Linked DNA regions of Homo sapiens. The protein of the gene in region 2 purifies or fractionates together with the protein of the main gene of each other region. This does not show direct contact. Each region holds a gene or a part of one and is shown on either strand. Other genes may lie near its edges. The genes, in order: CHLSN, MINK1, GALNT13, RCC2, ALKBH5, RIOK2 and RAPGEF1.

The links.
Region 1: the proteins of MINK1 (region 2) and CHLSN purify together in Homo sapiens (affinity purification with mass spectrometry, with the first as the bait; one study listed by BioGRID). This does not show direct contact.
Region 3: the proteins of MINK1 (region 2) and GALNT13 purify together in Homo sapiens (affinity purification with mass spectrometry; one large-scale study listed by BioGRID and IntAct). This does not show direct contact.
Region 4: the proteins of MINK1 (region 2) and RCC2 purify together in Homo sapiens (affinity purification with mass spectrometry, with the first as the bait; one study listed by BioGRID). This does not show direct contact.
Region 5: the proteins of MINK1 (region 2) and ALKBH5 purify together in Homo sapiens (affinity purification with mass spectrometry; one large-scale study listed by BioGRID and IntAct). This does not show direct contact.
Region 6: the proteins of MINK1 (region 2) and RIOK2 purify together in Homo sapiens (affinity purification with mass spectrometry; one large-scale study listed by BioGRID and IntAct). This does not show direct contact.
Region 7: the proteins of MINK1 (region 2) and RAPGEF1 purify together in Homo sapiens (affinity purification with mass spectrometry; one large-scale study listed by BioGRID and IntAct). This does not show direct contact.

What each region holds. Positions count from the first base shown.
Region 1 is NC_000007.14:999,377-1,002,247, forward strand, and holds part of CHLSN (protein cholesin), read right to left. Parts: intron 1,176-2,871; coding exon 1,094-1,175; coding exon of another isoform or gene 1,090-1,093; intron 1-1,089. UniProt on the Homo sapiens protein: Hormone secreted from the intestine in response to cholesterol, where it acts to inhibit cholesterol synthesis in the liver and VLDL secretion,leading to a reduction in circulating cholesterol levels. Acts through binding to its receptor, GPR146.
Region 2 is NC_000017.11:4,892,340-4,895,450, forward strand, and holds part of MINK1 (misshapen-like kinase 1), read left to right. Parts: intron 1-62; coding exon 63-173; intron 174-316; coding exon 317-429; intron 430-639; coding exon 640-728; intron 729-946; coding exon of another isoform or gene 947-970; intron 971-1,094; coding exon 1,095-1,258; intron 1,259-1,648; coding exon 1,649-1,754; intron 1,755-1,834; coding exon 1,835-1,972; intron 1,973-2,185; coding exon 2,186-2,294; intron 2,295-2,735; coding exon 2,736-2,903; intron 2,904-2,996; coding exon of another isoform or gene 2,997-3,010; coding exon 3,011-3,111. UniProt on the Homo sapiens protein: Serine/threonine kinase which acts as a negative regulator of Ras-related Rap2-mediated signal transduction to control neuronal structure and AMPA receptor trafficking.
Region 3 is NC_000002.12:153,878,422-153,881,921, reverse strand, and holds part of GALNT13 (polypeptide N-acetylgalactosaminyltransferase 13), read right to left. Parts: intron 1-3,500. UniProt on the Homo sapiens protein: Catalyzes the initial reaction in O-linked oligosaccharide biosynthesis, the transfer of an N-acetyl-D-galactosamine (GalNAc) residue from UDP-GalNAc to a serine or threonine residue on the protein receptor.
Region 4 is NC_000001.11:17,412,178-17,415,677, forward strand, and holds part of RCC2 (protein RCC2), read right to left. Parts: intron 1,541-3,500; coding exon 1,360-1,540; intron 1,002-1,359; coding exon 896-1,001; intron 18-895; coding exon 1-17. UniProt on the Homo sapiens protein: Multifunctional protein that may affect its functions by regulating the activity of small GTPases, such as RAC1 and RALA. Required for normal progress through the cell cycle, both during interphase and during mitosis.
Region 5 is NC_000017.11:18,200,828-18,204,327, reverse strand, and holds part of ALKBH5 (RNA demethylase ALKBH5), read right to left. Parts: intron 1-3,500.
Region 6 is NC_000005.10:97,176,748-97,180,247, forward strand, and holds part of RIOK2 (serine/threonine-protein kinase RIO2), read right to left. Parts: intron 2,447-3,500; coding exon 2,308-2,446; intron 1,102-2,307; coding exon 985-1,101; intron 545-984; coding exon 369-544; intron 1-368. UniProt on the Homo sapiens protein: Serine/threonine-protein kinase involved in the final steps of cytoplasmic maturation of the 40S ribosomal subunit. Involved in export of the 40S pre-ribosome particles (pre-40S) from the nucleus to the cytoplasm.
Region 7 is NC_000009.12:131,576,275-131,579,675, forward strand, and holds the end of RAPGEF1 (rap guanine nucleotide exchange factor 1), read right to left. Parts: intron 3,374-3,401; coding exon 3,223-3,373; 3' UTR 501-3,222; downstream 1-500. UniProt on the Homo sapiens protein: Guanine nucleotide-releasing protein that binds to SH3 domain of CRK and GRB2/ASH. Transduces signals from CRK to activate RAS. Involved in cell branching and adhesion mediated by BCAR1-CRK-RAPGEF1 signaling and activation of RAP1.

The DNA.
Region 1 (2,871 bases), on a different chromosome or scaffold from region 2:
CACCCTTGTGCCTGCCCCAGTGTCGCGATTACCGGAGCTTGCAATAGGGCTTACAATCGGCTTGCAATAGGGCTTGCAATGTGTATGTCCTCTAACTCTGAGGAGGGAGAGTGGCTTGAGCCCAGGAGGTCGAGGCTGCAGTGAACTGTGGTCGTGTCACTGCACTCCAGCCTGGGCGGGGCCCTGTCTCAAAAAACGCCCACAAAAAAACAAAAACAACAAAATAATGAAAGCAAGTGGCTGCAGGCTATGCCTGGAATGTCCCAGGGCTGTGAGTGGGGCTGGTGGGCCTGCCCCGCTCTGAGAGTCTGCAAACACAGGCACGGCAGGAGAAAACCGCCCCCTGCCCCCAGCGCGCACGCAAAGCCTGGCCTCTAGTAACGTGGGCGCAGGAGAGCCAGCGAGGCAGGAGGCACTGCCCACCGGATGCAGCTCAGCAGAACCGTGGGCTCCTCCAGCCTCACAGGACATGGGCAGCTCCAGCCCGCCGCCCAGCAGCCGGGTTTAGTTCAGAATTCTGTCTCGTTTCATCCTGTGAAACTCTATCTCACATCCTGCCCCTGAAAAGGGCAGCTGCCCACACGTACATGTGTAGACACACATCACGCGCACACACGTGTAGACACACGTCATGCACACACGCACGTGTAGACACACGTCACACGCACACGTGCAGGTGGCCTCCCTAAGGTTACCCCGTGTTGGTTTCTGCCCTGAAGGCCGGCGGCAGGGCTCCTGGAGGAGGCAACGCTGCTCATCTCTTAGAACAAAGGCACCGGGAGACCTGCCCTGCAGTGGGGCCCTGAGGGCGGCCCCTTCAGACTGTGGCTTCTGCTGTCAGGGCCCCAGTGTGCACAGGAGACGTGCCTGCCCCGCCGTGCACAGACCTCAGCCCCCAGGAGACGTGCCTGCCCCGCCGTGCACAGACCTCAGCCCCCGGGAGACGTGCCTGCCCCGCCGTGCACACACCTCAGCCCCCGGGAGACGTGCCTGCCCCGCCGTGCACACACCTCAGCCCCCGGGGGGACGTGCCTGCCCCGCCGTGCACAGACCTCAGCCCCCAGGAGACGTGCCTGCCCCGCCGTGCACACACCTTGTCACTGTCATACATGTGCAGCAGGAGCCACGTCTGCCTCGTCTTCTGAAACCTCCAGTTCTTGTGCTTTTGGGCCCATCTAGGGAAAGAAAGACAAACATCTCAGGGTGCTGGGCAAAAGACTCCCGGGCAGCTGTCTGCCCTGAGAGATCGGGGACGCCTCATCTTAGGAGAGGGAGCCCCACCAGGTACTACACACCAAGGCCTCATGTGAAGAGGGTTTTTGGAGCCCCTCCCCTGCCCGAGGCGAGGAGCCGCAACCCCACGCCCTGCTGCCGCCTGACCAGGAAGCATGTGGACGCCACTCTTACCTTGGCCACCCCGGGGCTCACCACTGACCCCAAGTCCCCGTGGGCTCCCCCACCCCATGGGTCACACGGATTTTACAGGGGGGGAAGGATGAAGTGAGTTTCTCTGGGAGGAAAGGGAGCGATGTAATTGATGATGTATTTTCTACATGAAAATGGGAAGACTGTAAGGAACAATACCCTGAGTCCCAGGCCCTCACAACAAGGGGCCAGTGGGCCTGGGGACGAGCAGCTCCCGGCTGCTAGAGGGGCCGCTCCCCAGGGCCACAACCACCCCGCCCCCGTCCCGCTCCTGCACTAGGGCCTGTGGACATCAGGCAGCTGCGGATGGAGCGAAGCTGGCGCTGTGGGTAGGGCAGGGCCAGGCAGGGTTTACTCCAGAGACCTCCTCCCAGATACGTGTTTCCAGGGCCAGGCAGGGCAGCCGAGCCCAGAAGCCTCCATCAGTGTGCAAGCCCAGGTCTGAAGACTGTAGGCTCAGCACGGGGGAGGGCCCTGTGCCTGTTGTGAGCGCTGCCCAGCTTGCCTGACCCCACTGCCATGTGGGTGAGTGGAGTCCTGTGGGTGTGGAGCCCTGTGGGTGGGGAGTCCTGTGGGTGAGTGGAGTCCTGTGGGTGGGGAGTCCTGTGGGTGAGTGGAGTCCTGTGGGTGGGGATTCCTGTGGGTGAGTGGAGTCCTGTGGGTGGGGAGTCCTGTGGGTGAGTGGAGTCCTGCGGGTGAGTGGAGTCCTGTGGGTGAGTGGAATCCTGTGGGTGGGGAGTCCTGTGGGTGAGTGGAGCCCTGTGGGTGGGGAGTCCTGTGGGTGAGTGGAGTCCTGCGGGTGGGGGGTCCTGCCGGTGGGGAGTCCTGCGGGTGGGGAGTCCTGTGGGTGAGTGGAGTCCTGTGGGTGAGTGGAGTCCTGCGGGTGGGGAGTCCTGCGGGTGGGGAGTCCTGTGGGTTAGTGGAGTCCTGTGGGTGGGGAGTCCTGTGGGTGAGTGGAGTCCTGCGGGTGAGTGGAGTCCTGTGGGTGGGGAGTCCTGTGGGTAGGGAGTCCTGTGGGTGTGGAGCCCTGTGGGTGGGGAGTCCTGTGGGTGAGTGGAGTCCTGTGGGTGGGGAGTCCTGTGGGTGAGTGGAGTCCTGTGGGTGGGGAGTCCTGCGGGTGGGGAGTCCTGCGGGTGGGGAGTCCTGTGGGTGAGTGGAGTCCTGTGGGTGAGTGGAGTCCTGTGGGTGGGGAGTCCTGTGGGTGAGTGGAGTCCTGTGGGTGGGGAGTCCTGTGGGTTAGTGGAGTCCTGCGGGTGGGGAGTCCTGTGGGTGGGGAGTCCTCTGGGTGAGTGGAGTCCTGTGGGTGGGAAGTCCTGTGGGTGAGTGGAGCCCTGTGGGTGAGTGGAGTCCTGTGGGTGAGTGGAGTCCTGCAGGTGGGGAGTCCTGTGGGTGGGGAGTCCTGTGGGTGAGTGGAGTCCTGCGGGTGAGTGGAGTCCTGCGGGTGAG
Region 2 (3,111 bases):
CCAGCCCCATCACCTCAGCGCCCCCCCGCCGCCCCCTCGGCACCCCTGTGCTCCCTTCACAGACCTCGCAGCAACTCCGCCTGGCAAATCTATCTGCAAAGGCGGGCAGAGCGGGGCACCCCAAAGCCTCCAGGGCCCCCTGCTCAGCCCCCTGGCCCGCCCAACGCCTCTAGGTAATAGAGTTGTCCCCCAACTCACTCTCACCTCTCACTTCTGCCACCCGCTTCCCTGGTGATGGCTCCCTCTGCAGTGCAGCTCAGCACCCCAGAGAAGGGAGCACCGTGCCTCCCTGACCCTGACTCTGCCCCCCCAACAGTAACCCCGACCTCAGGAGGAGCGACCCTGGCTGGGAACGCTCGGACAGCGTCCTTCCAGCCTCTCACGGGCACCTCCCCCAGGCTGGCTCACTGGAGCGGAACCGCGTGGGAGGTATGTGAGCCAGGGCTGGGCAGCCTGCTCTGGGCCTGGGGGCTTATCACCATGGACCCTGCCTTTGGTGGCTTTGGACTGGGGCACCCACACGGACAGGGAGGACCTGTGTGGGTATGGAACTTGGGGCTGAGTTCTGGGGCTCAGGGTGTGGGCTTGAGGCCATCCCTTGTTCAGGCATCAGTGACCTTCTTCCACCCTGCCGTCCAGTCTCCTCCAAACCGGACAGCTCCCCTGTGCTCTCCCCTGGGAATAAAGCCAAGCCCGACGACCACCGCTCACGGCCAGGCCGGCCCGCAGTGAGTCACCTGGTGGCAGGCATGGCCTGCCTCATCCTGGTTTGGGGCTTAGCCTCAGGGTGCTGGGTGTCAGGGGTGGGGTCTCCGCTGATCTACCGAGAAGGGCTGTGGGGATGGAGGGACTGGTGCTTCTCATGGTGCTAACCTTTCCTAACCTCTCTCCTAACCTCTCTCCTAACCTCTCTTCTGGCTCTTTCTTCCCCTGCGGCCCCTCCCAGAGCTATAAGCGAGCAATTGGTGAGGTTAGTGAGATGGGCCTGCTTGTGGGAGCCCCTCCTGTCGCCCTGCTGGGGTGTCCCGGCACCCTTTGTCTACCTCCACCCAGGCCCAGCTTCTCCCTGCCCCTCACGTGGCTCCTCCCTGCAGGACTTTGTGTTGCTGAAAGAGCGGACTCTGGACGAGGCCCCTCGGCCTCCCAAGAAGGCCATGGACTACTCGTCGTCCAGCGAGGAGGTGGAAAGCAGTGAGGACGACGAGGAGGAAGGCGAAGGCGGGCCAGCAGAGGGGAGCAGAGATACCCCTGGGGGCCGGTACGGCATCGGGAGTGGGGCCCTCCCACTCCAAGGCACAGGGAGGGAGGGGAAGTGGCAGTGGGGAAGAGGTGGGGCTTTGGGGCAAGTCTGAGGGAGAGCGGCTCCCTTCTCTAGAGAGTGGGGTGAGGGTGCAGGTTCCTGTCTCTCTCCCGCTGCCCTGTGTGTTGTGGGGTGGCCTCTTCAAGTGCCTGTCTGCCCCTGTGCCAGCCTGCCCTGTGTGCCATGCAGGGAAGCACCTCACGGTGGAGCAGGGGCTACACCGTGAGGGTGGAGCAGGTTGTGTTTTGAATAGAGACAAAAGCCTGGGCTCTGGCTGCCATCTGCTGCCTTTGGCACTTCTGTGGCCACGGGCAGGACCTGGAGGGGCCCCACCTTCCTCTCTCACAGCAGCGATGGGGATACAGACAGCGTCAGCACCATGGTGGTCCACGACGTCGAGGAGATCACCGGGACCCAGCCCCCATACGGGGGCGGCACCATGGTGGTCCAGCGCGTGAGTGAGCCTCTGCTCCCTCCCCTGTACCTGTGTGTGCCCTCCTCAGCCCCACGCCAACCCTGCCCTCTGTCCTGTAGACCCCTGAAGAGGAGCGGAACCTGCTGCATGCTGACAGCAATGGGTACACAAACCTGCCTGACGTGGTCCAGCCCAGCCACTCACCCACCGAGAACAGCAAAGGCCAAAGCCCACCCTCGAAGGATGGGAGTGGTGACGTAAGTGGGCCGGAGGCAGGTCCGCCGGGAGAGAAGAGCCCTGGCGATGGGCAGGAGGTCCCGGTGCTGGGTAACGGCAGAGGATGGGGCGGAGCGCTGGGAGCTGGACAGCGGGGGTGCCAGTTGGGGAGCTGGAGCCTGGGGAACAGCAGCAGGGGCAGGGCCGCAGCTGGACTTGCACTTGTTTGCCTGACTGCTGTCCCCCTACCACAGTACCAGTCTCGTGGGCTGGTAAAGGCCCCTGGCAAGAGCTCGTTCACGATGTTTGTGGATCTAGGGATCTACCAGCCTGGAGGCAGTGGGGACAGCATCCCCATCACAGGTGAGGACAGGAGGACAGACCTGCTGTGAGGCCAGGGTCCAGGGGCAGCCTGGAGGGGAGCACAGTGGTCTTGAGACGCAGCCTCACAAAGCATAGCCACAGGACCTCTCCCTTGGGCCCTAGCACCTGCCTGGGCACAGAGGCAAGGAAGAGCCTCTGAGACCCCTCCTTCCTGTCCCACAGGACAGGAAATGCTCAGAGTTGCCAGGGGACCTGGGCAAAGACTCAAAGCTAACAAGTGACAGAAATGGGACTTGAGCCAGACCTTTTGACTCCAAGTCCAGCACTCTATCCCCCTCTCCCATGCACCTCCTCTCCTCCTGTCTTTCTCCTCCTTTCTGCGTATTATGAGGTGCCAAGACCTGATATAGGGGATGGAGGTAAAAAGAGATGGGGTGAGAAGCTGCAGCCCCTCCTCCCACCTCCTCCTCCTTCTGGCAGCCCTAGTGGGTGGAGAGGGCACTCGGCTCGACCAGCTGCAGTACGACGTGAGGAAGGGTTCTGTGGTCAACGTGAATCCCACCAACACCCGGGCCCACAGTGAGACCCCTGAGATCCGGAAGTACAAGAAGCGATTCAACTCCGAGATCCTCTGTGCAGCCCTTTGGGGTAAGCCAGGGCAGGGACAGCTGAGGAGGCTCTGGCGTGGCTCTTGTGCTCCTGGTTAGGTGAGGGCCTGGCTGAGCCTCTGACCTGCCCAAGGGCTCCTGTTGCAGGGGTCAACCTGCTGGTGGGCACGGAGAACGGGCTGATGTTGCTGGACCGAAGTGGGCAGGGCAAGGTGTATGGACTCATTGGGCGGCGACGCTTCCAGCAG
Region 3 (3,500 bases), on a different chromosome or scaffold from region 2:
ATAGTAATAATGTTCTTCAGAATGATTCAAATAAGGATCTCTGTTGAGATAAATGTGAATTGCCCATCTGCACAGACCTTAAGGGACACAGGGTAAAATTGATACTACTGATTTCATGTTTGAAATGCCTTATATCCTGTTCTGTTTGTGGAAAATGAGAAAACTGATTAACATTTGCAAAAAAAGATTAATTGAAGTTCAAAATTATTTGAGATATTTGCAAATATTTTACATTTGTGGAAGTTAGTTTTCCTTACAAAAGGAATGGAAATGATGTATACATGTTATCCCACTTGAATTAGCATTTTATATAGATAATAAGAATTTGTGCATTGTAGAAGCAAAAATGGGCCTATTGTTGTCTGCAACAGCAAATGAAGTGTCTCATAACTAGCAATTCAATGTGTTAATTCAGCTGTACCATCCAATTACCTACAATTCATCTCAACTTTAGTGCACAACAATAAAAGTCTTTTAAAAATTTTTGACAAAATGTCTGCTCTAGGTTACCAAAATAGAGGAAATACTATCCATAAGTCTGACAGTGGGTACCACAGAATATAAATTGTTAAAATTATTTATCACAGCCTATCAATATCACAATGATTTTTGATGTGAAGTCAGTAATCTAGCATAAATAATGAACCATATATTGGTTGTTTTATTTTTAAAAAGTCTGACCAAGTAATGTGAGAACCGTGTGGCAAGTGAAATTGGCATCCCCTCAAATAACACGGCATTCCTTTGGAGCCATGGCCTGCCACCTGCCAACTGACCACAGGGCCCAAGCACACAACTCTAAAAGTAGACAAAGGTAATGAGATGCAAATTTAGCATCCCCTTCCACCTGTTAAATGACCTAGATGCAAGAGCTATAGTGTCTCTTACCTATTCAGAAACTAAATGATTAAATGAACAGCCTTTTTTAATTTCCTTTTTTGTTTTTTGTTTTGTTTTGTTTTGTTTTACCAGAATCAAGGAAACCAATACATAGTTCAGTCTGGCTACATGAAGATTTATTAAGTCATAAAAGAGAGACAATTTAAAGCAAAAAGCACCATGAAGAAGAATGGAAAGAAGAACAAAGAACAAGATATGGAGCAAAGAAAAAGAATACTAAAAAATAATAAATACAGTATTTACCTTAAGAAAAAAATCAAAAGGTATGCTTAAAATCTATAACATATGAATAAAATCTGCACCATATTCAGTGACAGACTGTTTCTAATATTTTTCAGGACAAGTGATATATAATCCTATTTGAGACTGAATGATCAAGAGAATCGAAGAAATATAAGTCTCAGGAATCCTGGTGAAATTTGCTATAAGAAAAAGAGAAAAGATGGTAGTGAGTCTTGAAAGTAGAATAGTCAGTAACCCCATAAACCCTTAAATCATTTACTGAATTGGAAATCACATTGTTTCTAAATGCCGATTTTTAACTCTTTTTTAAACCACACAAGTGGAATGACTCATTATTGGGGGTTTAGAATTCAAATAATTTACATAATTTAATCAAACATCGGTCTAAAATAAAATTCATTTTAAAAAACACCAAAGAAAAGCCATTTTACAAGATTATTTTAGTGTATTAAACAAAAATATTAAATAACAGAAAGGAGAAAATGTACTTTGTTAAAGATCAATACATCAGTTTTCACAAGTGATTATAAATTACAAATATTCCATCTTATACAAAGCTTACAAAAATTATTGAGAAAAAATCCATAAATTTAGGTAGAATTTCCCCAATCCTTCCATAAATATGAATATTTCCTAATGTAACTTAAAGATCTTATGAGGAGCATTACAGGAAAATAAATTGTTTCTTATTTAGTATAAAGATGTAAATCTTAGTTACGTATTTGAAGTATATATGGTTATTTTGTTATGGATTGAAACAAACAGCTGTTTATTTTCCAAATCTTTTAAAAATATTCTTGTCTGCAACATTATGTATTACTGATTATTAATATTGTTTTGGTCTAATTAGAGGCCAAGTCAATGATGACACTACTTGAGGAAAACCACTCTGATTTTTCCATGTTTACTATCCCATTCATAATTATATTTATTTATCTGGTGCAACAACTTCTAAAATATAAACTTTTTAAAAATTTTCCAACTCGAGAAATATCAGCTTTTCTTCCTTCACTTTCAAAGGCAAAACTTACTCAAATAGGGAAAAGACATAGAAATCTGTGTTCTGTTTTCAATTCTGCTACTTCAAGTTTTGTGGCTCAAAGCACGGCCAGGATCAGTGGCTCATGCCTGTAATCCCAGTACATTGGGAGGCTGAGGCGGGAGGACTACTTGAGGCCAGGAGTTTAAGACCAGCCTGGGCAACATAGTGAGACTCTGTCTCTACCAAAAAAAAAAAAAATTAAAAATTAGCCTGACATGGCAGCACATGCCTGTAGTCCTAGTTACTTGGGAGGCTGCGCCAAGGGGTTTAAGGCTACAGTGAACTATAATTGCACCACTGCACTCCAGCATGGGTAACAGAGGCAGACTCTGTCTCAGAACACACACACACATGCACACACACACACACACACACACACGTAGGTAGTTTTAATTATTTTATCAAAATTAACATCATCCTTGCCCTTCCACTGATCTTCTTACACTGGCCAACTTACTTAACCTTTCTGTGACTCACTTTCCTTGTCTCTAAAATAAGAATACTAATAAAATCTACTTTTGAAGGTCTTTATGATTAAATGAATCAATATCTGCAAAGCACTTAGAACAACTCTGGGGCATAGTAATTGCTGTGTTTTGTTAAATAAATCTGTTAAGTGATATACTACAAGCAGATTAGTTGCTTGAAATGTCACTGCACCTCAGAATCACATAGGAAAATGTGCATAAAGGTAGATTCTGTGGATCCATCCCAGTTAAATGAGACTCTGTATCAGTGGGACCTGAACACCTGTAACTACAATGAATAAATAAACTCAAGGTAATTTGGATTTACAACCTGCTTTGGTAGAAATGAAACTAATGTCTTAGGTCAATTTAGCCACATTTCACACACTCCACCAGTATTCTTTTCCTCTTTGATGGCCCAAATAGACACTATCTAAAGCAACCTGGGATGTAAAACCAACCACCAGTTTTACAAGAGCACTAACCAAACCTGCTTCACTTTCGCCAAGGCAAAGAAGTAAAAATGGAGCAAACTGACCCGTACAAGTTGGGATGTGTTTTTTGGAGGGAAGATGGAGAAATTAGTTCTGACAAGCTCTTTTTGTCATTGCCCAATATTCATTTCCAATCCCAGGACACAGAGTGGCACCATCTTAGTGTCAGTAAATGGCAGTTAACTACCAAGAAGGAACAAGTCATCCCTAATCTTCCAATCATTTCAACAAACATTAACACAGTAAACTAAGGCTAAAGCAAGTGCTAGCATCTTTCCTAGGTCCAAATTTTATTTGAAACTAGGAAGAGAATGGAATAAGCTATAAGCATTATGTCATCAAGTCATGAATATG
Region 4 (3,500 bases), on a different chromosome or scaffold from region 2:
CAATGATGCTGCTCTTCCTGCAAACAGGCAGGCTGTCACTGCAGGGCCAGCAGCCCCAGACCTGCACCCACGCAGCTATGGCTCAAGGGCATGAGTGTGAGCTGCCACTTTTCCCTTGGCGTACTCATTCCAAGTAGCAAACACAATAACAGGGCCAACAGGTTTCTCCTCAATCCTAAGATTGTTCCGTGCAGGCCACTCAACGCTTCAACAAAACAACAAAGCCCTTAGACAGGCCTAGGGGCCAAAGGCAGGGGACCTTGCTGTGCATCCTGCACAGCTCTCTCTCAGTGGGAGGTCGCTTTGGGAAGAGGAGACCAGATCAGGATAAAGTGAAAGCCTGTTCCAGAGGGAGCAGCCTTCATGCATAATGATTTGGGCAGGGCTAGAGCCTTCAACAGATTAAAGCCACGCCGACAGAGGCCCCTCATACTGTTCCACCCACACCTGCCAGCTGATAAATCCAACTCCTCAGCAAGAAGTGCTAGCTAACTCAACAGGTGTCCTGAAATGAACTACAAACCACTGCTGCCAAGACAATGTCGTCTTCCCAGTGTCACAGCAACTCAAGTCCTGCTACGTTTCCAACTACGTATAATTTTCAACCTGCAGCGTAGGAATACATCAAGCTCTGCTTGTTTATTTCTTTGAACAGAAACCTTCAAAATGACTTTCTTCCCACAAGACAGGGAACAGCCATCTGTTCTAGCAGCAAATGGGCCCTCTCCCCTCCTGTACCCCCGGACTCTGGGATTCAGTGTGTCAGATGGCCTGCTGAGGACAGCCCAACAGGCAGCAGAAACAGAGCCCCATCAGGGAGGGGCACCCCATGGGTGTGTCTGACACCCCCATGAAAGGAAGAGACCTCATACCCACAGGAGATGCTGCCACCTACCCACAAGCCAGGCTCCGGATTCTCCAGCCGCAGAGGTCCTGCACTGCTTTTGGGTACATGGTAGATTCACGGGAGGTGTTGGTGGCCCCCCAGAAAAACAGACCACCTAAGGGAAGACAAAACATGTTCCCAGCGTGACCAGACATCGAGAGCTGAGTCTCATCTTCAGTATTATCAGGGTGAAAAGAGGACGGGATGGCAAACAAGTGTTCTGTCTAAAAGATAACTGGAGCCAGGCGTGGTGGCGTGCCTGTGCAGTCCTAGCTACTCAGGACGCTGTGGTGGTAGGACTGCTTGAGCCCAGGAGTTCGACACCGGCCTGGACAACACAACGAGTTCCTGTCTCAAAAAAATAAAGAACACTGGGAGGTAAAGAGAATTGGGGTTCGTGGTCTAGGGACAGGACAATGGCTACACGGTTCCGCACCAGAGCACTGATAAGCCAGGGGGCAGAAATCACTAACCCACTTCACTGACAGCAAAGGAGCAGGTGTAACCAGCATAGATCTGGGAAGCCCCACGCCCAGGGAAGTCAAACAGCTTCACCAGGCGGGGGACCATCTCATCCTTCTGCTCTGCGTGGCCCAGCCGGCCATAGCCACCAAAGCCCCAGGAGAAGACTCGCTTCTGGGAGTCCAGGACCAGCTGCAAGGAAAGAAAACACAGGGTTGGAACAAACAGACTTCCAACAGGCAACAAGAGGGGTCATCGTTTCTGTGCAGACAACCTGGTGCAAATGCTAAGGGCAAAGGAACAGCAACATTCAAGATCCCCTACCAGCCGGGCACGGTGGTTCACATCTAATCCCAACACTTTGGGAGGCCAAGGTGGGTGGATCACTTGAGGTCAGGAGTTTGAGACCAGCCTGGCCAACATGGTGAAACCCTGTCTCCAAAAACCAAAGAAATATCCTTTGCCTGCCTCCAGCAGAAAGATCCTCTACCTCCCGCCTCCAGCAGTGGGGGAGGAGGCAACAGGAGCAAGTGTAGCAAAATGGCATGCATTCAATAAGCCCAGTTTGCTATTTTCTCTGCCAGGGACTCCATTTTCCAATCCTTTTTTGTTCTGTTTATTTATTTAAGTTACAAGTCTTAACCCTTTCCTTAATCAGAAGCAACAGGGCTATGTCTCCTGAGAGTTGGGCAATCATTTGATTCCCACTACAACAGAGATTCGGCCAGATGCAGTGGCTCATGCCTGTAATCCTAGCACGTTGGGAGGCTGAGGCAGGTGGATTGCCTGAACTCAGGAATTCAAGACCAGCCTGGGCAACATGGTGAAACCCATCTCTACTAAAATACAAAAAAATTAGCTGGGCACAGTGGTGTGCACCTGTAATCCCAGCTACTCAGGAGGCTGAGACAGGAGAATCTCTTGAACCTGGGAGGCGGAGGCTGCAGTGAGCCGAGATAGCGTCACTGCACTCCAGCCTGGGTGACGGAATGAGACTCCATCTCAAAAAAAAAAAACAAAACGAAACAAAAAAAAAAACACAACAAAAAAAAAACAGATTCAATTGCAGAAAGAACAGAAAAGGCCTACCTGTTCCTGGATTTTTCGTTTCTTTTCCCCCCCTCGAGAGGGTCTCGTGCTCTGTTACCTAGGCTGGAATGCAATGGCACGATCACGGCTCACCACAACCTCCACCTCCTGGGCTCAAGCGATTCTCCTACCTCAGCCTCCCAAGTCGCTAGGACTTGGGTGTGCACCACCATGCCCAGCTGATTTTTGTGGTTTTTTTGTAGAGATGGGGGTCTCACCATGTTGCTCAGGCTGGTCTCAAATGATCTGCCCACCTTGGCCTCCCAAAGTCCTCTGATTACAAACATGAACCACTGCGCCCGGCCTGGATTTTTCTTTAGACTTCCCTCACCCACAGGTACAGAGGTAACCTGTACCTGGTCACTGATGAAATGAACTCAGAGACACTTCAAGTGTTTAAGATTTATCTTCTTCAGTCTCGTTTTCCCATCTTCTGACATGCCAATTCAGTTCTTTGATGTTTCATGTCTAAACCATGGGAATCTACAACTTACTAAAAAACTTGGCCTATAAGGCCCTAAACAAGAGCCAACTTTATTTCCCCTGACTACATCAGACAAAACAAATCAGTTTTTGGACTTGCACAAACTGAAATCTCCTACCCTAGTCCTAGCCCAATTCCCTGGGCATTCTTCATCGGCAAGAAGATTCCAAGGGAAGGAGGTGGTGAGCTGAGACCACTCAGTGGGGAGGACCAACTTGATCTCTGGAATCCTAGCCCAGGCTTTTTCAACAAAGCATAGAACAAAGAGACTCCTAGGCATTCTCAGACAGAAGAACCACAGGAAGGCCATTAAAATTAAAAGATACACTAACAGCCGGGCGCGGTGGCTCACACCTATAATCCCAGCACTTTGGGAGGCCGAGGCAGGTGGATCACGAGGTCAGGAGTTTGAGACCAGCCTGGCCAACATGGTGAAACCCCATCTCTACTAAAAATACAAAATTAGCCAGGAATGGTGGCAGGTGCCTCTAATCCCAGCTACTCAGGAGGCTGAGGCAGGAGAATAGCTTGAAACAGGAAGACAGAGGTTGCAGTGAGTTGAGATCCCACCACTGCATT
Region 5 (3,500 bases), about 13 Mb from region 2:
AGGCATGCACCCCAACGCCTGGCTACTTTTGTATTTTTAGTAGAGATGGGGTTTCTCCATGTTGGTCAGGCTGGTCTTGAACTCCCGACCTCAGGTGATCTGCCCGTCCTGGCTTCCCAAAGTGCTGAAATTAAAGGCGTGAGCCACCACGCCTGGCCCAATGACCTTTTCTTTACCAGGCTTCGTGTCATCAAGTTGAGAGGTCCAGGTGGCAGAAATCAGACTAAATAAAATGTTAGCCTTTATACTTGACTTAAAGGACTCTAAGGGCCTCATTGAAGAAAGTCCCTCCTCTGGTACCCATAAAGCTAAGACTCTATAGGTGCCAGGGAGCCCATGTTCAGGGAAGGAAGGCCCCTGTGTGCCCCAAAAGCCCCAGTGAAGCCCTAGTGGGGGCACTCTGGAGTTGTTTCTTCGGGTGAATGATGGATGGTAGGAGAAAAGCAGAGCCACCAAGATGAGAGCTCTTGACACATCCCCTGGGACTGTTATAAGTACATCTCATAACAGCTGGAGAAGCTCCTGCCCTCCCTACACTTCCAAAAATTCACCAAGCTGCAGGATGCCAGGCTAGAGCTTGACTCCAAGCCCAGTGCCCACCAGTAGCTTAACTTCAGAACATGCCCCTGTTAAAAGGCAACCAACTCTCATGGCGTAGGCCAGGTCCTCAGGGTTTAGCAGAGAGTCACAAATCTGGATTCAGGAGGCTCAGTTCTAGCAGTAAGGTCTGGACCCAGGCCTCCTCAGGTGGCAACAGGAATGAAGACCTGCCTTACAGATGAGTCAGTATTCAAAGGTCAGAGCAAAGCACCTCGGGCATGTGACCTCGGGCATGTGAGGTTGACCGTGATACCCAGAGCGGCCACCTACCGTGTCAGGACAAAGCAGGGACAAGGGAGGTCACAACAAAGGATGGCTGTAGCACTAAAGTGTGAACCGAAGGGAAGGGAGGGAGTTGATCCTATCCTAGGTCCTCCAGAGAAGCTGCTGGGGTGAATTATTCTCCCTGTAGGGACTGGAGAGCAAAGCTAAATCCCAGAGCAAATCACTAGCTTGAGTCACAAAGCTACTACCTACTACTCTGTGATGGCCTCTAAAGCACAGGTGGGGCCAGGCACAGTGGCTCACACCTGTAATCCCAGCACTTTGGGAGGCCAAGGTAGAAGGATTACTTAAAAGCCAGGAGTTTCAGACCAACCTGGGCAACAAAGTAAGACCTTGTCCCTATTTAAACTCTTTTTTTTTTTTTTTTTTTTAAAAGACAATCTTGCTCTGTCTCCAGGCTGGAGTGCAGTGGCACGATCTTGGTTCACTGCACCTCCACCTCCCAGGTTCAGGCAATTCTCCTGCCTCAGCCTCATGAGTAGCTGGGACTACAGGTGCACGCCACCATGCCCAGCTAATTTTTGTATTTTTAGTAGGGACAGGGTTTCACCATGTTGGCCAGGATGGTCTTGATCTCTTGACCTCATGATCCGCCTGCCTCAGCCTCCCGAAGTGCTGGAATTACAGGCGTGAGCCATCGTGCCCGGCCCTAATTTTTTTTTTTTAATTAAAAAATAAAGTGCAGGTGGGCCCTCCTCAGTGCAAGAGAACACTGTGCATGCAGGTGGCAGCACCACCATTTCTGGGAAGATGGTAAACCAGACCGCACTCAGGCCACGATGACTCTGGAGCGAGGGCAGTCCCCAGCCAGCTACCAACTACTCTCCAACGTCTGGCACCACCTTTACCAGGCATCCTTGTGCTAAAAGCTTGGCTTTCCAACAAAGCGAGGCAGAGACCAGTATTGTGGGCCTGTCCAAGCACCCTCTTGCCTATTTAGTAACCTGGGTCCCTAGAGCTAAGGTCTAAGCTCCAGCACCTTTGAGAATCAGACTCCCACAAAGCTCAGGTCTGTACCTTGCTGGCTCTCCTGCAGTAGTACCCACTCCCCTCACGGGACTCTCCCCACCCATCTTCCACCAGCCCCCTGCCAACATCAGACTTCTGTTTTTTTTTGTTTTTTGTTTTTTGTTTTGAGTCGGAGTCTCGCTCTGTCGCCCAGGTTGGGGTGCTGTGGTGCGATCTCGGCTCACTGCAACCTCCGCCTCCTGGGTTCATGCCATTCTCCTGCCTCAGCCTCCAAGTAGCTGCAACGACAGGCGCCTGCCACCATGCCCGGCTGATTTTTTTTGTATTTTTAGTAGAGACGGGGTTTCACCGTGTTAGCCAGGATGGTCTCGATCTCCTGACCTCACGATCCGCCCGCCTCAGCCTCCCAAAGTGCTGGAATTACAGGCGTGAACCACCGCACCCGGCCAATTAATTACTTTCTTTGAAACAAGGTCTATCACCCAGCCTGGAGTGCACGGGTGGGATTACAGCTCACTGCAGCCTTGACCTCCTGGGCTCAAGCAATCCTCCTGCCTCAGGCTCGCGAGTAGCTCGGACTATAGGTATATGCCACCACACCTGGTTTTTTAAATCAATCAATCAATCTATCTATCATCTATCTATCTATCTATCTATCTATCTATCTATCTATCTATCTTATCTATCCTATCTATCTATCTATCTATCTATCTATCTATCTATCTATCTAAGATGGAGTCTCACCCTGTAGCCCAAGCTGGAGTGCAGTGGTGCAATCTTGGCTCACTGCAACCTCTGCCTCCCATGCTCAAGCGATTCTCCCAAGTAGCTGGGACTACAGATGCATGCTACCACGCCCGGCTAATTTTTTGTATTTTAGTAGAGATGGGGTTTCACCATGTTGCCCAGGGTGGTCTCAAACTCCCGCGCTCAGGCAATCCGCCCACCTCGGCTTCCCAAAGTGCTGGGATTACAAGTGCGAGCCACCGCACCCAGCCAGGAAGAGTTTAGAAGACCACCTAGCATTCACAAGTTTAACCACAACTGCCCAATTTACAGGTGCAGATAAGACTGCATTTGGAGAGGAGTGGCAGAGCCAGGGCAGAAGCCCAAGTTTGTCACCTTCCTGGTGATCCCATTGTACCCATATTCCTTGGGCAGGCCACAGACACATCAGAACAGTCAGGCTGCCAAAAGGGCAGGGTGTATGCACGTGGACACAGACTTACTGAACCAGGGAACAAATGTAAGCTAAATCTAACCACAGGAGACACAAATCATGGAGAAAGGAGCAACACCAAGCCCTGGTCAGAGAAACTAAGAGCTAGCCACCCCTCACCCCACTGCTGAGGAACGAGGTCCAGAATGAGACCTCCACTTCCTTCCACTGCTCATCCATCCACTCAGCCTCACATTCAGATTGCTCTGCTCTCATGGAAGGTCTCCTGACTCCTCGAACTCTGTGGATCTAATGACCAAGTAAGCTATTGAGCTTCGCTTCCTACAATCTCTCACATGCAAATCCCTCACCCCACTGCTCACATGCCTCCACGGCTCCCCAGCGCGCTTAACATTTCTCTGCACAGCGTGAAGCTTTTGCTGTCTTAGGCCGGTGTATCAAGTCCTCCACTCCTTATCTATTCTGT
Region 6 (3,500 bases), on a different chromosome or scaffold from region 2:
CCTGGTGTTTTCAATTAGAAACAGACATATGTATAGTTACATATATTGAATAGATATATATACATCCACACATACATATTTGTGAGGTAACAGCATCATTAATTACTTTTGGCTCTTTCATCTTGTCAGCATTACAGAATGTGTTGCCCTTATGCATTAGTAACAATTTAAAATACCTTAACGTAGAAGGAAATCACTTAAAAGAGCCCAAATAATCAACAGAGTTATTTAAGATTGAGTCTGTCTGTAGGAATTGAGTCTAAGGTTAGAGAGATGTGGGGACAACAGAATCACACTTGTCATTAAGGCCTTTGAGACACATGTATTATTTGGCTAAAAAATGCATGACTACAAAATAAAATAAATACCTTCATATAGGCAAATTCCTTCATGGCAGAGAGACGAGATAAATATAGCCATGACACATTGTGCCTATGTTTATGATAATCGCGTTTGTTTTTCAAATTTCGAAACGAGGTTCTTCCTAGTCTGTGAAGCTTTAATGCAAATTGTTGTCCTTCTTCATTTGCAACAATGTAAATATCTAGAGACAAAATTTCAAAAACAACCATTATTACACGTTTATTCCAATCAGTTAAAACAATTCTAACTTTCTCTAATTTTATTTGTATCAAAAATGTCATTTTTCCTAATAAAGATTGAGTATCCCTCCTTATCCAAAACCTTCGGACCAGAAGTGTTTTGAATTTTGGATTCTGGTATATTTGCACATAAATAATGATATATCTTGGGAGTTATTAGAAGAAAATTAATTCCTGGTATAAATGAATTTTCAGTGATAGACGTTCAGAGAAAATAATAACCTACTAATTAAGGACACCTTCTGATTTGTACTGCTTCCAATCAACTTTCCAACTTACTGTTTAGTTAGAAAAAAGGGAAAATTAAAAGAGGAAAGGTTTCTGAAGGGAAAACATAAACTAAAGCAAAGAAAATACTTTGCACAGTACTATTAGCACTTACCTGATTCTTTGCCAACACCCATCTGGTTTCCAACAGACTCAACTACTTGCCTAGAAGAAAGTGTTTTCAAAGCTAGGTAATCATATCCTGCATTTGTCAACCGATAGCCCTGGACAGCTAGACAAAAATCAAAGCATAAAGACCATATTTCAGTTACATTGTACAACCAAGTCACGTAAGTTCAAGTCATAAGAAAGATTTAACAATAAAGTCTTCATTGGAAAAAGATAAACTGCCCAGGCTCACAAGCTTCCAATTTCTTCCTATAATTTGCATTTCTTCTCCAGTGTACTGATAATCAAAATGTGACCTACAGACAGGTCTGTAAGTGTTTGTGACAAGATAAAAGGAGGAATTTAAGTTCAATTTGTATATCAATTTGACCTAGAATTTATGTCTGTTTTTGTATATCTGTTATCCATTTCATTTTTCTAGTAATTATTTTTTTGTATTTTATAAAAGTAAGGATCTGTGATAGGTTGGAAAAAACTAATCCTTCACCACAGATGGTTTCAGAAGTAATGATCTAGGGTATGACTACTGATTGTATTTTCCAAAGATGGTAGCCACAATAGCTTTATCCTATATGCTCTTCTGCAGTACCTACATGCTCTTCATGCTCTTCTACAGTACCTACATGCTCTTCTGCAGTACCTACATGCTCTTCATGCTCTTCTACAGTACCTACATGCTTTTCTGCAGTACCTACTTGCTCTTCTGCAGTACCTACATGCTCTTCTGCAGTACCTACATGCTCTTCTGCAGTGCTCTACCTGCTCTTCTGCAGTACTCTACCTGCTCTTATGCAGTACCTACGTGCTCTTCTGCAGTACCTACGTGCTCTTCTGTACTCTACATGCTCTTCTGCAGTACTCTATGTGCTCTTCTGCAGTACCTACGTGCTCTTCTGTACTCTACATGCTCTTCTGCAGTACTCTACCTGCTCTTCTGCAGTACTCTACCTGCTCTTCTGCAGTACCTACGTGCTCTTCTGCAGTACCTACGTGCTCTTCTGCAGTACTCTACATGCTCTTCTGCAGTACTCTACATGCTCTTCTGCAGTACTCTACGTGCTCTTCTGCAGTACCTACATGCTCTTCTGCAGTACCTACATGTTCTTACTACTATTCTTTTTTCACCTCCTTTGATCTGGGTGTGCCCTGTGATTATTTTGACTAATAGGATATGGCCGAAGTGTGTTCTGTCAGTTCTTCGTCTAATGCTTTACTAGTCTGGCAACTTCTACTTCTTGACTTTTGGAACACTTGCTCTGGTGGAAACCAATTACCTGAAAAATCACAAATGGTGCCTCAAAATACTTACTTTTGGTACGCTCCCAAGCTATGAGTTTATGTTTCACTAATTCTCTTAAAACTTTATTACAGCCACCATGTTTAAGGCTGGCTATAGAAGCAATCAAACTGCCGGGAACAATTTCATGGTTCTTCATGCCCATTTCAACCTGAAATTAAAGGAATCATTATATAATCATAATCAACACAAAGCCTTGTCTATCAAAACCCTGCGAAATTAACTTCTCCTTGAAGCTTTCCTGACTATGCAGTTCTCCAACTAATTCTGAGACATAATCACTTCCGTCTCTTGAAAATATTTTTAATTGCAATTTGAAATCTAATCATTGATATTTGTATTGGCTTTCCATTTCAAGAGTAGGAACTGTGAGTGCTAGACATACTGATGACATTTGGTCAATGCTAAAATACTTGATGACACCTAAACATTTGTCTTTAAAAACTACAGATATGCCAGATATTTATTAAGCAGGTATTTAATGAGAAAGTACTACATGTAGGCATCGTAGAGGATATATATATATATATGAATGATAGACTGGATAAAGAAAATGTGGCACATATACACCATGGAATACTATGCAGCCATAAAAAAGGATGAGTTCATGCCTTTTGCAGGGACATGGGTGAAGCTGGAAACCATCATTCTCAGAAAACTAACACAAGAGCAGAAAACCAAACACCACATTTTCTCACTCATAAGTGGGAGTTGAACAGTAAGAATACGTGGACACAGAAAGGGGAACATCACACACTGGGGCCTGTCGGGGGGTGGGGGGCTAGGGGAGGGATAGCATTAGGAGAAATACCTAATGTAGATGGGATGGGTTGATGGGTACAGCAAACCACTATAGCATGTGTATACCTATGTAACAAACCTGCACGTTCTGCACATGTACCCCAGAACTTAAAAGTATTTTATATATATATATAATATATATATATAAAATATATATATATTATATATATATAATATATATATAATATATATATTATATATATATTTTTAAATTTATTCCTCAGAGGTAAAAAGCACATATATATATATCTCTATCCTACATGCTCTTCTGCATGTGTATATGTATATATATATATATGTATATATATATATATATATGTGCTTTTTACCTCTGAGAAATTTTTATCTCATGATGGAAATTTTAAAAAATGGTATACATCTAAGTTTATTAGAAGTTAAGAAGT
Region 7 (3,401 bases), on a different chromosome or scaffold from region 2:
GCCTCCTCACTCTGTCCCTTGTAAGTGCAGAGGCTCTGCTGTTCTTCACTGGGGCTGGGCCCGAGCCTCTGTGTGCTGCCTCCTGGGCGGCAGAGGACACACCGCAAAAGGCACGCCATAAAGACAGTGCTTCCGGGCCCCGAAGGAGCAATTCTAGAGCCTGTGCCCCCGAATCCCACCCGAGGAATGCCCTTTTCATCAGGACACTGGGGTGAGGGGCTCTTGTGCATGAACCGACCTCTGGAGCACGAGCAATTCTTTGTCCAGTTGAATGCTTCTAGGGCACAAGGCCTAGGAGGGAAAGTTCTGGTGACGTCCATTTCACTCAGCCACGACTACCCCAATGGCAGCAAGTGGGCCTGGGAGTGGAGCTGAATGACCCCAGCCTCCCAGGAGCCCCGCCTGCGACAGGGGTCTCAGAAAAGAGATGGCAAGGCCAGCATGGAGCAGGCTGGGCTGTCACTGTAGTTGCACACATGCAGCTGGGCGCGGACATGGCATTGGGCAGCTTTCATCTGTGTTTATTTTTTTTCATATAAAAGTTACATGTTTGAAATGTCTGCAGGAAGATGCCACCATCAGACAGGTTAGCTGGGGCATATATATTACAATGTAACCCTGTGGAGGTCGTGGGGCCGGAGCGGGAAGATGCTCCCCAGAATCGGGTTCAGGTCAGACATGGTGTGTGCCTGCCCCTCCTTGCCCCCCCACACCCCGACACCTGCAGGTGAGGACTGACCTCTGCAAGGAACGAGTCCTCCGCCTGGCTCACGTCTGTCTGTGAAGACTGATTCCCACAACCCGCCCGGGCCCCCCAAAGGAACAGACGAGCCACGGCCAGGCCGCAGCACTGAGCACAGAGCTCAGCAATAACCAGGGCCAGGCTTAGGGGGCACAGGGGGCTGCCTGCCATCAATAAGTTAGACATACATCGCACCTTGCCGTCCTCACGCAGGGAGCCCCTGGGCACTGCTCATGTGCTGCCTGGGCCCTGCTGCTCAGAACACCAAGGGCTCCCAGTGAGGGCCTGGGGAATTGCCTGGGCACACTGGGGCCAGGCACAGGGTCTGTTCTGAATTCAGGGAAGGTGAAGAGACCCCACCTCTATCCAGCTCAAGCCCAAGAACAAGGCAGACAGAGCTGTGGACAGCACCCGACCACAGACACGGTTCTGCCTGCTGCTGGAGTGAGAGGCCTGGTTTCTGAGGCTGCAGCATGGCACTGGCATTGCCTGTGCTACAGATGGGGACTCCTGCGAGTCTCACAAATACAGGGAGAATTTCAGTTCACACAACCCAAGGGCCCTGTGTGCAGAGCGGCCCTCACACGCGCACAGCAGCATTCAACAGAGCTGGGCAAGGGAAGGGGAGAGAGAGTCAAGGATTGAAATGAAGGGACTTCAAAAAGAAGGAACAAACTAAAAACCCAACCCACACACAATACTGTTAATAAGCCAGCGACTCTACACACACACTCCTTAAATAATAAAGTGACAGGTCCCGGCTGGCCCCGCAAGACCACCGCAAGAGGGGGTCCCGCCACCAGAGGGGGTCCCGCCTGCCACTGCACGGCTTTCCTCCCTCTATCTACAGGACAAACAAAACACGGGAGAGGGGAAAAAGCCCACATTTTCTTCTTGATAAATGCTGTTCAAAAACCCATGAAGGACTCAAAGTGACATGGTGGTTTAAAAAAAAACCTAAATGATCAACAGATGTTGCTTTCTATATTTTTCCTTTGTTCTGTTTGAACTGGGCTAAGTAAGCACAGTTAGACCCTGCTGTTCACTTGACCACGTCCTAAACCCGGGACAAGTGAGCACTCATTCATGCACAGCAGACCCGGAGGCATGGGCTGGGGCAGCACAACTGGGTTCCCGCAGCGCCCTGCCTGCAGGCTCATGCTGGAGGCCACGGAACCAGGCGGCACAGGGCAGATTCTGTTTGTCAAGCGCCCCACAAGCCTTGCCCAGATTGTCAAGCTCAGCAGCGAGAATGGTTTTGACGAGGAGGATGGAAACAGCATCTGCTCTGGAAGCCGCTCTGGCGTGGGGAGAGTGGGGAGAGGGTGCGCTTGCTGCAGCTGCTGCCTTAGGAGGCTCCTCTGTGGCCAGGCTTCTGCCTCCCTGCACCCTGAGGGACCATTCGGGTGCCTCAGGGATGCCCTTCCCTCCCAGGGGCACTGACAGCACTGGCTGAAAGGTCTGAAGAGCCAGAGGAGGAGCCCTGCTGGCTGGCCCAGGATGGGGCAAGGAGGGAGGGAAAGCCAGGGGATGGGGAGGGACATGAGATGGAGTTTAAGGCACACAGCGAGCGATGGAGGAGGGAGGTGCTGGCCTCTCCCCTCTGAATTAACTCCCCCAGGAGCTCAGCTCTGGCCTCAGTTTGGTGAGGTTCAGAAGACTCCCAGCAATAAAAAGTATTTCTTGGATGATCAAGTCCTCCCTTACTCCAGCCTCCTCTTCTCAGCTCCCCAGGTGGTGTGGGAGGGGCCCAGTGGCCTGGGGTGGGGGGTAAGGGGCGACGGGATGACAGAGACTGCTGCTGCTCTCAGGCGGGCAAGGGAGGCCCTGATGGCGCCAGTACCGCGGGGCAGAGCACCAGCTGCGGGGCTGCTAAGGCGTCACCTGCGTACCTTTCCGGGCCTGCTGAAAAGCTCACACCATCCTCCATGCATCAGAAGGGGAAGCGGAAAGTGAAAGGATCCTCCCCCGAGTCTACTCTGCATTCTGCCCACCCAGCTGCTTGCCCCCATTCCAGGGCCCCTGCAGGACAGGCCACCCCAGGAGGCCTCCACTCATTTGAGATTTCAGAAGATTCAGGGACCCTGGAGCTTAGGGAGGGGGAGCACCCACCACTTCCTTGGTCTGCTGATGAGGTCTCTGCTGCTCTCTCCCTGGAGGGGAGTGGGTGGAAGGTCAAGAGGGGAGAGATGGAAGTAAAAGCAGAAAACAAAACCAAACCAGAAAACCACCGGTTTGTAAATTGGCAACAAGACCTGCCTGCTGGCTGCCCTGAGGCCCACGGGTCTGCTCCCACAGAGGAAGGAGGCAGGAAGCGGCTGGCAGGCTCCAGCTCCCGCCCGGCCCCGCTGAGGGCTGGCCAGCCTCATGGCTCCGAGGCCGGGACTCCTGCCATGCGCCTAACAGGTCCAAGGTCCTCTCCGGTCTGGGAGCTGCCCTCTGCGCCCCTCGAGCATTCTCCTGGATCCCGGCGTCTGCTCCTAGGTCTTCTCTTCCCGGTCTGTTTTTCTCCTTGTTATGTTCCTGGGTTTAATTTTCAGAGACAGTTCCCATAGGGCCTCCTCAGCCAGGTGGTCACTGAAGTCATTGAAGAAGTTTATAATGTCGTCGTTCCTCCGCATGTCATAGTGCCTGGTGCAGGGGATGGGGAGCAGTCAGT